Linked DNA regions of Homo sapiens: region 2 is linked to region 1. A link means that fine-mapping ties the variant in region 1 to the expression of a gene that starts in the linked region. Tissue or cell type: fibroblasts. Region 1 holds a variant in brackets; the other region holds the start of a gene. All regions are shown on one strand. Distances are from middle to middle.

Region 1 (5,377 bases):
TAAGTCCAAGAGTCCAAAAGCTGAAGAACTTGCAGTCTGATGTTTGAGGGCAGGCAGCGTCCAGCATGGGAGAAAGATGTAGGCTGGGAGACTAAGTCAGCCTAGTGTTTCCATGTTCTTCCACTGCCGAGACCAGTTCGGTCGTGAAGACCCTAACCCAGCAGCACTAGAAGAATTAAAGACAGACACAGAAATAGAGTGCAGAGTGGGATCAGGGAGCTGACAGCCTTCAGAGCTGAAAGCCACAAACAGAGTCTGACCCACATATTTACTGACAGCCAATGATAAGCATAGTTTCTATAGATTATAGATTAGCTAAAAGCTTTCCTTACGGGAAACAAAGCATTCTTAGCGAGGAGTAGAGAAACAGGCTCTGGCTGATTATCTGCAGCAAAAGCATGTTGTTGAGGCACAGGCCACTCCTGCTATTGTTTGTGGTTTGAGCAGTTTTCCACTCCAGGCGGGCCAGGTTTTCCTTGCCCTGCTCCAGTAAACCAACAACTTTCAGCAGTGTGCATGATAGCCATCATGAACATGTCACATTGCTGCAGAAATCCTGTTTATGGCCAGTTTCTTTAAGGCCTGTTTATGGCAGGCTTACGGCTTGTTCATAGCATCCCACCTGCTTTTATTCTGGCCATGCTGGCAGCTGATTAGATGGTGCCCACCCAGATTGAGGGTGGAGCTGCCTTTCCCCATCCACTAACACAAATTTTAATCTCCTTTGGCAACACCTTCACAGACACACTGAGGAACAATACTTTGTATCCTTCAATCCAATCAAGTTGACACTCGGTATTAACCATCACACTTTCAGATGCAGATATTGGCATTTCTGAACTTTTCTAAATACATAAGAACTGTGAACTCTCAGGGTTTGGAGGAATGGTAGAATCATGGAGCCTAACCATCTGTCTGATGCATGACTCCCACACCCCTGCCAAATGACAGATCCAGCAATCTCTGCCTGAGCTCTTCCCACAAGCAGTGCCTCTCTGTCTCCAGTATCCCCCTACTCATTCATTAAGCACCTGCAGTGTGCCAGGTGCTATGCCAGGATCCTGACTACTCAAGAAACTCCTATGTAGGTAAGAGAATAGGATGAGAGAATACAGATGAGGAATAAGAAAGAGATCCTTGAACAAAGTGAGATGGTTCTGGATACTAAGAGTCAACACAAAACCCAGCACATCCTCTAACATTTGACAGGCATTTCCTCTTTGCCATCTCCCCATCCCCTAACCCGGTCATACTGACAGTTGTTGAAGCATACTTACATAAGGGATATTGTGTTTCCATTCTAGATTCTCAAAATATTTCACCATTTTGAGCAGTGTTACACTGACTCTCATTCACTGTCAAAAGGTTTCATGATCTAAATATTATAGTAGTCAAGATGAAACCTAAAAAGAACGGCAAGGGTTGTTTGTCCAGTTTCTGTTCCAGAAATCACTCTGGGTGCTCTGTGATGCTAACAGCATGGGACTGGAGCCAAGCGATAGGCAGCATGTCCGTGTCATTGTCCAGTCCTCACTTTGCCCCATGAGGACCCTGAGATCAGCCTGTGAACAGCACAAGGTGACCTGCAGGCAGGTAACCTCTCTACACAGCTCTCTCAGACCCCAGCAGTGAGGGAGAAGAAAGTGGGGAGGAGGCAACAGAAGCTCAGCCATCACTGAAGGGCAGGGCAAGGAGACAAGGGAAAAGGAAGTGACAACTGTTATCTGTAATTAATCACTGTGACACCCACCGCTTCTCTCGGGGTTATGATGGTGTTTTTGTCACCATCCCAAGGAAACTAGATTATTATTCCTATTCACGGACATGGAAGGTTATGGCTCCCAGTGGTCCTTTAGGGGGTTCAGCGTCTATTTTCTTTCTTCTTTCTTTCTCTTTTCCTCCTTTGCTTATCCTTCCCTGTTTGGGGGTTACCTTCATCTTCTTCACTTTTTTGTTCTTTCTTCCTCTCTCTGCCTCTGTCTCTGTCTCTGTCGGTTTCTCTCTCTCTTTCCTTCCCTGTCTCTATCTCTGTCTGTCTCTCTCTATTTCTCTCTTTCTTTCTCCCCCCCTACCCCACAGGCTATGTTTCGCCTATAGATGGAACAACATTCTGGGCATTGATCTAGAGACTGACGTAAAAGTGTTTCAGGAGCACAAAGCAGATAGAACATGAGTCTAAGATCCAGGAAACCTGGATTCTCTTCCTGGCTTTGTCATTAATATCTGTGACAGCTAGGATGAGATGAAAGACATGAATGTGCTTTGAAAAATAATACAGAGTACCATTGTATATTCTTCCAAAGCTACTACTTGCAAAGTGATGTTGAGGAGGCCCAGCAAGAATACAAAATCTATTGTGAACCTGCTGTTGTGCCTGGCCTTGAGTCAGAGAGTCCATTCAGCATACAGAACTGATTTTGAGCTTAAAAAGGCCTATTTAGAGCAAAAGAACCTGAAGAATTTGTGCAATACCAGGCATGCAGTGAAACCTGAGAACACAAAAATTCCTGAGCTCAGTTTAAAATCAAGATCAATGTTGTCATTCTGAAGTCACTGTTCCATTTAGCTCCATGCCAAGGATTACTGCCATGCTGAGTGATGAGAACCATTGGATCCAGCTCCATACCATGGAAAACATAACACACTCAGATGCTGTTATCTCTAATTACATTCTTGAATGGGCCGCTGCTGATCTCTCTGACATGAGCCCATCCCCATTTGTGTGCTACAGGGAATAAGAATGACTTTTACAAACTTCTCTGTGCACGCTTAGGGTACTAATTGCTTTCTAACACCCATCCCTTCAAGTCCTCTTTTCACTTTTAAATTTCTCAAGCCAAAGGATACAAAGTATTGTTAAATAAATAACATGGAACACTTCAGAAGCTGAGTGACCTGCCACAGTTTAGGCCTTAAAGGAGATAAAGCAGGGATTCTCCAAGTGTGGTCCCCAGTCCAGCAGCGTCAGTTTCTCCTGAGA[A/ACTTGTT]AGAAAGGCCTATTTTCAGGCCCCGCCCAAGATCTACTGAGTCACAAACTTGGGGAAAACAATCTATATTGTAATAAGCCTTCCAAGTGTTTCTGATAGACACTAAATGTATTTTATTTTCTATCACTGCTGTAACAAATTACAATAAACATGGTGGCTTAAAACAACACTAACGTGTTATCTCCAGCCTGCAGATCAGAAGTCTGCCAAGGGTTGCACGGGGCTGAAATGAAGGTGTTATCAGGGCTGAGTTCCTTTCTGAAGGCTCTAGAGGAGAATCTGTTTCCTTACCTTTTCCAGTTTCCATAGGCTGCCTTCATTCCTGGACTCAAGGCCCTTCCCCCTGTTTCCAAAGCCAGCAACAGTGGGCCCAGTCCCTTTCACCCACCATCTCTGAGCCTCTGATTCTTCTTCCACTTTTAAAGACTCATATAAATAAACTGGTCCTACTGAGATCATCTAGACTAATCTCCCCGTCTTAAGTGAGCTAATTAGCAAACCTAGTTACATCTGCAACCTTCTCTTTCACCATGCCACATAACATACTCACAGGTTCCAGGTATTGGGGTGTGGGCATCTTGAGTGGCTGCACATTATTCTGCCTAGGACAGTCCACCTTCTGGCACTGAAAGATTCATGTCTGCCCCACATGCAAAATACATTAACCCTATCCCAGTGCACCCAGAGTCTCAACCCATTATAGCACAAATTCAAAGTGCCAAATCTCATTGTCTAAATCATCTAAATAAGGTATGGGTCAGCCTCTGGGTGTAACAGATCTTCGGGCACAGTTTCTCTCTACCTAGACTTGTGAACTAAAAAAAGGTTATCTTTTTTTAGTTCAGGTTATCTTCTCTGAAAATACAATGGCAGGACAGGCATAGGATGACATAGACATTTCTGTTCAAAAAAGGAGAAAATAGAAGAAAAAAGAAATCATCAATCAAGTGATTTCAAACTGCAGTGAGGCAAACTCCATTTGGTTTTAAAACCTAAAACTAATCCTCTGTAGTTCACTGCTCTGCTGCCTGAGCCATCCTTCCTTTTTCATAAAAGGCAGCTGAGTAGTTTTATTGGTCTGTGTTCTGAATTTCAGGGGACCAACAGGCTTCTTTCATTTTGCACTCTGTCCTTTTCGGTCCAAGCTGGAAGTGTTTCAGCAGGTATAAAAATCCTCAGAAACCTTGTAAGTCTCCCATGTTAAATCACAGGGATTTACTCCATTTGATGAAAGGATCCTTCAAAGATCTTTCCTAGATAATCCCATCTCTATTTTTGGTTTCTGCTGAGATAATGGGATCTGTGAGGTGCATCTTTAATCTTTACAAAAAAGTTTTTTGTGTTTTTTTTCTTTTGTGACTAAAGACTTTGAACTTTTCATTTTTCTGAAATGTTTTATTTTTCCAGAGTATTATCAAACAGATCCAGCCATGATCTCAGCTTTTTCTCTACAGCATGCTTTTTGATGGTGAATCTCTTAATTTTAGCATCTTTTGCAATCTGGGTAAAATGAGAATTCCCCAAATAATCAAGTCTTGAATTCTTTTGGTTTAACTGTTCTTCACACAATTTATCTCATTCCTCTCACACTTCACTATAAGCAGCAAAACCAGACCACGTCTTAGGACCTTTCTTGGAAGTCTCAACCTAGTGTTCAGTTTCATCACTTGGAAGCTCTGCTTTCCACATAATTGCAGGACACAATTCTGCTCAGCTTTCTGCCACTATATTACAAGAATCCCCTGTCCTCCAGCTTCCAATAACATGTTTCTTGTTCCCTTCTGAGCCCTCTGATAAAGATGTTATGAACATTGTTGAAATAACAACACAGGATTTAGACTATTACATAAACTTATTTGATAAAGCAGCATCAGAATTTGAGAGGATTAATTCCAAATTTGAAAGAAATTCTATTGTGGGGAAATGCTATCAAACAGCATCACATGCTATAGAGAAATCTTTCATGAAAGGAAAAGTCAATCAATGCAGCAAACTTCACTCTTGTCTTATTGAAGAAATTGCCACAGCCTCCCAACCTTAAGCAACCACCACCCTGATCAGTCAGCAGCCATCAACATTGAGGCAAGACCCTCCACCAGTGAAGAGATTACAATGCACTGAAGGCTCAGATAATCGTTAACATTTTTTAGCAATAAAGTATGTTTAACTAAGGTACGTATGTTGGTTGTTTTTAGACATAATGCTATTGCACACTTAATAGGCTACAGTATAGTGTAAACCTAACTTGTGTATGTACTGAGAAGCCAAGAAAATTCATGTCTCTCAGTTTATTGTGATGTTCATTTTATTGCAGTGGTCTGGAACTGAACTTTCAATAAATCCAAGTTATGCCTGTAAAAGTAAAATAAGACTCAAACTTTTGAGTGTTAAGTAGGC
Region 2 (5,377 bases), 33 kb before region 1:
AAACCATAGGCTCTTTGTCTCACTATTCTACCGCCTAGACTGAAAATAAGCAATTTCTTTTTGACCAAATAAAGACAGGGTTTTCCAATTCCTGGGAGCGCTGTCAGGTCTCACTAGAAAGCAAGTTCTTCTCAAGACATTCTCCTTGTCTCTCCTCATCCCTCTTACGGGCCTGAATCTCTCCAGATCTGGCTGCCTCCAGCATCTGTCCTGTTCACCATTTTGGCCTCAGGGCCTAGCACAGGGCCTGGCACAAGCAGGTGATGCCCACAGTAACTACTGGACTGTGACATTGGGCTTCCCTCCTACAGCCTGCCTCTCTCTCCTCCAGCAGGCCTCTTCCTCATTCTCCAGGCCCAGGCTCGCCCATTACTTCCTCAGGTGAGTCTTCCTTGAATTCCTTGGGTCTTTTAAGTGCTTCCTTCCAGGTCAGCTCCTGGATCAACTATTTCAGTGCTAAGTGTGTCGAACAGGAGCTTGCACAGGTTGCCCAGCTAGAGTAGAAAGTCCTAGAGAGCAGAGACTGCATCTTTGTCACTTCTCTATCCCTGCGCTTACCACAGATCAGGGGACATTAGCTGGGTCACAGGAATTCCATAATTACCTTTAAAATGTATGCAAGCCCCTCATGAGAGAGAGGCTTTGCTTGAGTTATGCAGGGAAATGAGGCCGACAGTTTAGGATGCTGTGAGGAGGGGCTGGAGTTACCTGGCTCAAGGGCACTGCATTTCCTAAATAGCTGACTCTTCCATCTTACTTTAGTAGTAAAATACTCTGAACTTAGAGCCAGAAAGGGAAAGAAGCTTATCAAAAAGCTTTATCAAAAATAATATCAATATTCACAGGTAAATCATTAGCTTTCAACCAGGGTCAAAAAATCTTAATGCTTTCAACTGTGTTCTTTCAGCATCGGGCCTGGCCACGGGTTGAAGCCCTCTTCAAACAGCACAGAGGCAGGAGGGTGCTCCCCGCCACTGGGTATCCGGTTGCCCAGGGAATGGCATAGCCCCAGAAAATGCTGAGGCTCCCACATGTCGGGATCCTTCAGCTCGAACCCTAATATCTGTGTGGCTTTGGGGATGATGTGATTAACAGGAGCAGGGCGACTTCCACTTCCATGGCTGGCTTCTCTCAGGTACACCTTGTTCCTCAAGGCTGTACTCATCATTTGTTCCTTTATCTTTTAATTCAATTAAACCAGCTTTTATTGAGCCCTTACGGGGACAAGGAACTGTGAGATACTGTGGGAAATTTAAAGTTGAAAAAGACTGACCCTAAAGGAAAACCAGCAAGATTACAACATAATAGGGACCTCGAGATAAAATCCTTGTCATGCTGTACAGAGAAAATTAAATTCCAAGAACATACTGTACACCTCCTAGGAGAAAGAGGCTGTTCTACATTTTGGGGTCCAGAGATGAGGACATCTTCAGATTTTTAAGACCTTGCTCTCCAGAAGAAAGTATTAATACCTTCCCAGAGCACGCCCTTGGCACAAAGTGGGAAGATTACACAATCCTGCCCTCATCACCCCTCACCAGCCCCAAAGATCCCCGAGGGTTGACAGAATGAAGGTGGTGGAGCCTGGCCCAGGGGCATGCCCCTTATCTGTCAGTGCCATCTCTGCCGGCCAGAGGTGGCCCTATCCAGCTGGAGTTTCTGAGTCGGAGATTTCGTCTCTCGGCTCCCTTCCATCCCGCTGGAGAACAGCGGGATCCAGCCCTTCCATCCGGGCTCTGGTCTGTCTTGGGGGTGGGGGGACACTTCGATGTCTAGCAGGGGACTGGGAGACCCTAGGATGAACGGAGCCGGGCGTACCTGGATGGCGGTGGTGGGGATGGGTGGGGATAAAGGGTCTGGAGGACACCTGGCTCAGGGACTGAGGTCCTTGGCACAGCGCCCTGCCCTGTGCCCGTTGGTTGCAGGCTAACGGCCGGCGCCCCACTCTCGGCCTGACCACCCACCTGGGCACGCCCTGTCGTAGTCGAAGCAGCAGTCCCCGGTGAAGCGACAGGCTTGGTCGCAGAAACACGTCCCGTAGACCCTGTCCAGCCTCCAGCCGCGGGCGAAGCAGGCGGGGTCCCGGCCGGGACAGCAGCGCCCGGCCTCGGCGCAGCCGGCCTGGGCCCCGGGCCACAGCCGCGACAGCGCGCACAGCGCCATCCACAGGGTCCTCATGGCCAGGGCTCCGGCGGCGCCTGCGACGCGACAGACCCCCGGGGCAAGCGCTCTGATCCTCGGCTGGCCGCGGCCCGGGAGCTGCCCGAGCGGCCGGCGAGGCACAGCCGGGCCCTGCCCTGCGCCCGGCCCCCGCCCTCCGCGCCGCCCCTCCCCAGCCCTGGCGGCGCGCCCGTCGAGGCCCGGGCGGGTGGCGGGGCTGCCCTGCCCAGGTGGGGAGGGCGCTGCAGTTCCCGGGACGGGCCCGCAATCGACGGTCCGGGCGCCACCCACTCCCCGCTGCCAGCTCGCGCCCCAGCTCCAGCCCGGGGACCTCCGGGGCGCGGGAGCGGAAAAGCAGGTGCTGGCGGGGCGGGGGTCGGGGTGGGGTGCCGGGGCGTAGCCAGGAGCCCGGCGGGGGAGGCCACATTTCCTGGCTCTAAACTGTACTTCTAACGCCTGGGGACACATTAACGAGCGGGCATTTTCACTCTAAAGCCATGAGACCAAGAGCACTCGATGGGCACCAAACGTGTCTCAGCAGCACTCTGCGCGGGCCACCCCGCCTTCGCCCGGGAAAGCTCATTCAAATACAAAGTGGACACCAGCTCGCCCACCCTCTCAGTCCCCGCAGGCCGCAGAGAAGCTAGGAGATAAGTCCAAAGAAGCATCCTTTCTTTCTGCTGCATTTATAATGGGACTCTTCTGCCCCAGGAAAATGCCACTTCGCTTCACGAGGAGGCAATTTGTGAATGGTGGGAAGAATAAATAAAATAACGGGGCTCTGTTTTCTGATAAACCAATTTCTCCCCCTAAAAACTCTGTGTACTGATATTTTAGAACTTTCACTTTAATAAAATGCTTGCCTAACTTTTAATATATATATTTTCTTCTCCCTTTCTCTCCAAATGTGTTACGTTTTCTGCACCACTCTTTTTGTTCACCCAAATTTATGCTGGAATTTTCATTTTATGTTCTTAAATCATTTACCCTAATATGGTTTTTATGTGAAACCAGGAATATAACGTTTTTTGCATCTGCGAACCTAAGAAATCAAATTAATTTCATAGACTTTCTTTCTTTCTCATATAAGGATTTACAGAGGAATTTTCTTTATTCATCAGAGAGAAAAGTTAACAAAAGTAGAAATGAAAAACTTGACTACAAAAGTAGTGAAACAATACGGTAATCAACCATACAAAACACATTGTGAAATGAAGAAGATTTAATACATTATAAGAATTTTATCTTATAAACTCTAACCACAAAGTTTGACCAGTGGAGACTGTAATCTTATTTCATCTTCCAAGAAAAACACACTCTAAAGTCAAAAAGAAGTTTTTTCTTTGTGAGCTTATACAAACAAATTCTCAACGTTGAGATTTTTTTTCCGTCTTTAGGTAAGTCTCTCTTACTTTTGTAGTCTAAAGAAATAACATATACATATATATTTATATATATGTGTGTGTGGGTGTGGGTGTGTATCTTTAGTTTTTGTAGCTGGAACTAAATAACTGCAGCAAATTATACCCTCTGCCTTTTCCCATGTCACAGATTTTATTAGCAGTTTTGTATTAACTCATTCATGTAATTTATACCCACACCTTCTCTAAGGCTGTCTGCTTTATAGAACGCCTTTAGGCAGATACTTTTTTTGTAATGCCATAAGAATCTGGAACAGTTCCAGAAAGATGTAAAGGAAAATGATCCGCCGACAAGTTCGCTTTCAGGAATAAAACATGAAATGAAGTGATAACAGAAAGGAGAAGAGGAGGTCTGGTTTAAGAGAATTAAAAGTATAATGCCAAATGCCTGCTCAAATACCGTTCTTTTCAGCCCGCTCCCCACCCCCACCAGCCCTTTTCCTTATAGACAAAACCAAAATTGGAAATCGAAAACAAAAAGTTAGGGGGTCTGTGCTCATGAGATTTAGCTTCCAGAATTACAAAATCTGGGTCTAGTTCTGATCCTATGATTTCTGACAAATCTCAGTGCCCTCAACTCAAACATAGAACACTAAATCTTTTCAGATTGTTGTGAGAGGCCCACAGAGACGAGGCGATGTGAGTGGGAACTAAATATCTATTAATGTCCTAATGTCCACCCCACTCCCACTCCATAATTTAAGCCTAAACCAAGCAAAGACAAGTGCAGTTTTGGTTGTGTGCAAAATAGGGGAAAGCAAAAAGATTTTGTCGCTTAAAAAAAAAAAAGAAAAGAAAGGAAACGAAAACCACAAATGATTACTACTTTAACAGCACAGATAAAAAGGAGTTTGTCTCTGGTAAGTAACATTAAAAGAAACAATCTCAAGTTAAAGCTTGTACTGTCTTGAAAATATGAAGAAAAGCCTCCCGTAGCAGGCTGTAGCAAAGGAAGCAGTTCCTGCAGGAATGGGCAAAGTCAGAGGACCCTGACATTTAAAGCAATGGAGTTCACATCCTTACTGGAAACTGGATGCAGTCAACTGTAACAATTAGTGGCTTTGTTTTCCTTGCCCTGGAGATGTTTGGAGAGCAGAAATCATCCCAGTGATCAGGTGGATGACTATAGGAAGTAATAAAATGCACCTTAGAAGACACACTTTCTTCTGAAGTGTTGTCTTTGGAAGCTGTCCAGGATTGGTAAAATTATGGGGGTGGGGTGGGGGGCTGAGAGTGGGGAGAGAATGGAGATCTACCTATTCATCATTCTAGAACATAGTAATTTATTTATTTATTTATTTGAGACAGGGTCTTGCTGTGTCACCCAGGCTGGAGTGCGCTGGCACAATCATAGCTCACTGCAGCATCAAACTCCTGGACTCAAGCGATCCTCCCACCTCAGCCTCCCAAGTAGCTAGGACTACAGGCACATGCTGCCACACCCAGCTAATTATTTTTTGGAGACACTAGGTCTTGCTGTGTTGCCCAGGCTGGTCTCAAACTCTTGGTCTCAAGCGATTCACTTGTCTTGGCTTCCCAAAGCACTGAAATCACAGGTGTGAGCCATCACACCTGGCCAGAATATAGTAATTTAAGAAAACATCCACATATATGATCTCATTTGGTGCTGCATAATTGTTAGGAAAATATTAGCATCCTCATTTCGCAGATGACAGAGAGATTAGATATGTAGCTAATTAGTGACAAAACAGGACTAAAACTGAAATTATTCTTTCCAAAACACCGCAACGTTCTTCCCCTTACATAAAGCTTTTTATGAGGGGTTGGGAAAGATT

Which allele goes with the higher level. Alleles are on the strand shown, and positions count from the first base shown. SD is a standard deviation of normalised expression in the study named.
As copies of A replace ACTTGTT in region 1, the expression in fibroblasts of the gene that starts at base 2,283 in region 2 goes down (moderate effect, 0.63 SD a copy in GENCORD).

Evidence for each region. PIP is the estimated chance that this variant, and not a neighbour inherited with it, causes the effect. A credible set is the group of variants that fine-mapping cannot tell apart.
Region 2: it holds the start of SBSPON, and the variant in region 1 is the best candidate, but not a certain one, in a credible set for the expression of SBSPON in fibroblasts (GENCORD, PIP 0.51).

Annotation. Positions count from the first base shown.
Region 1 is chr8:73,123,659-73,129,035 of GRCh38, forward strand. No RefSeq gene overlaps it. Among named protein-coding and RNA genes, the nearest start is that of SBSPON, 33 kb to the left of the region's middle. The variant A/ACTTGTT (reference allele first, on the strand shown) is at 2,981.
Region 2 is chr8:73,090,890-73,096,266 of GRCh38, forward strand. SBSPON (somatomedin B and thrombospondin type 1 domain containing) reads right to left here and starts at 2,283. Exons shown (of 5, transcript NM_153225.4): 1 at 1,965-2,283. The coding sequence starts at 2,178.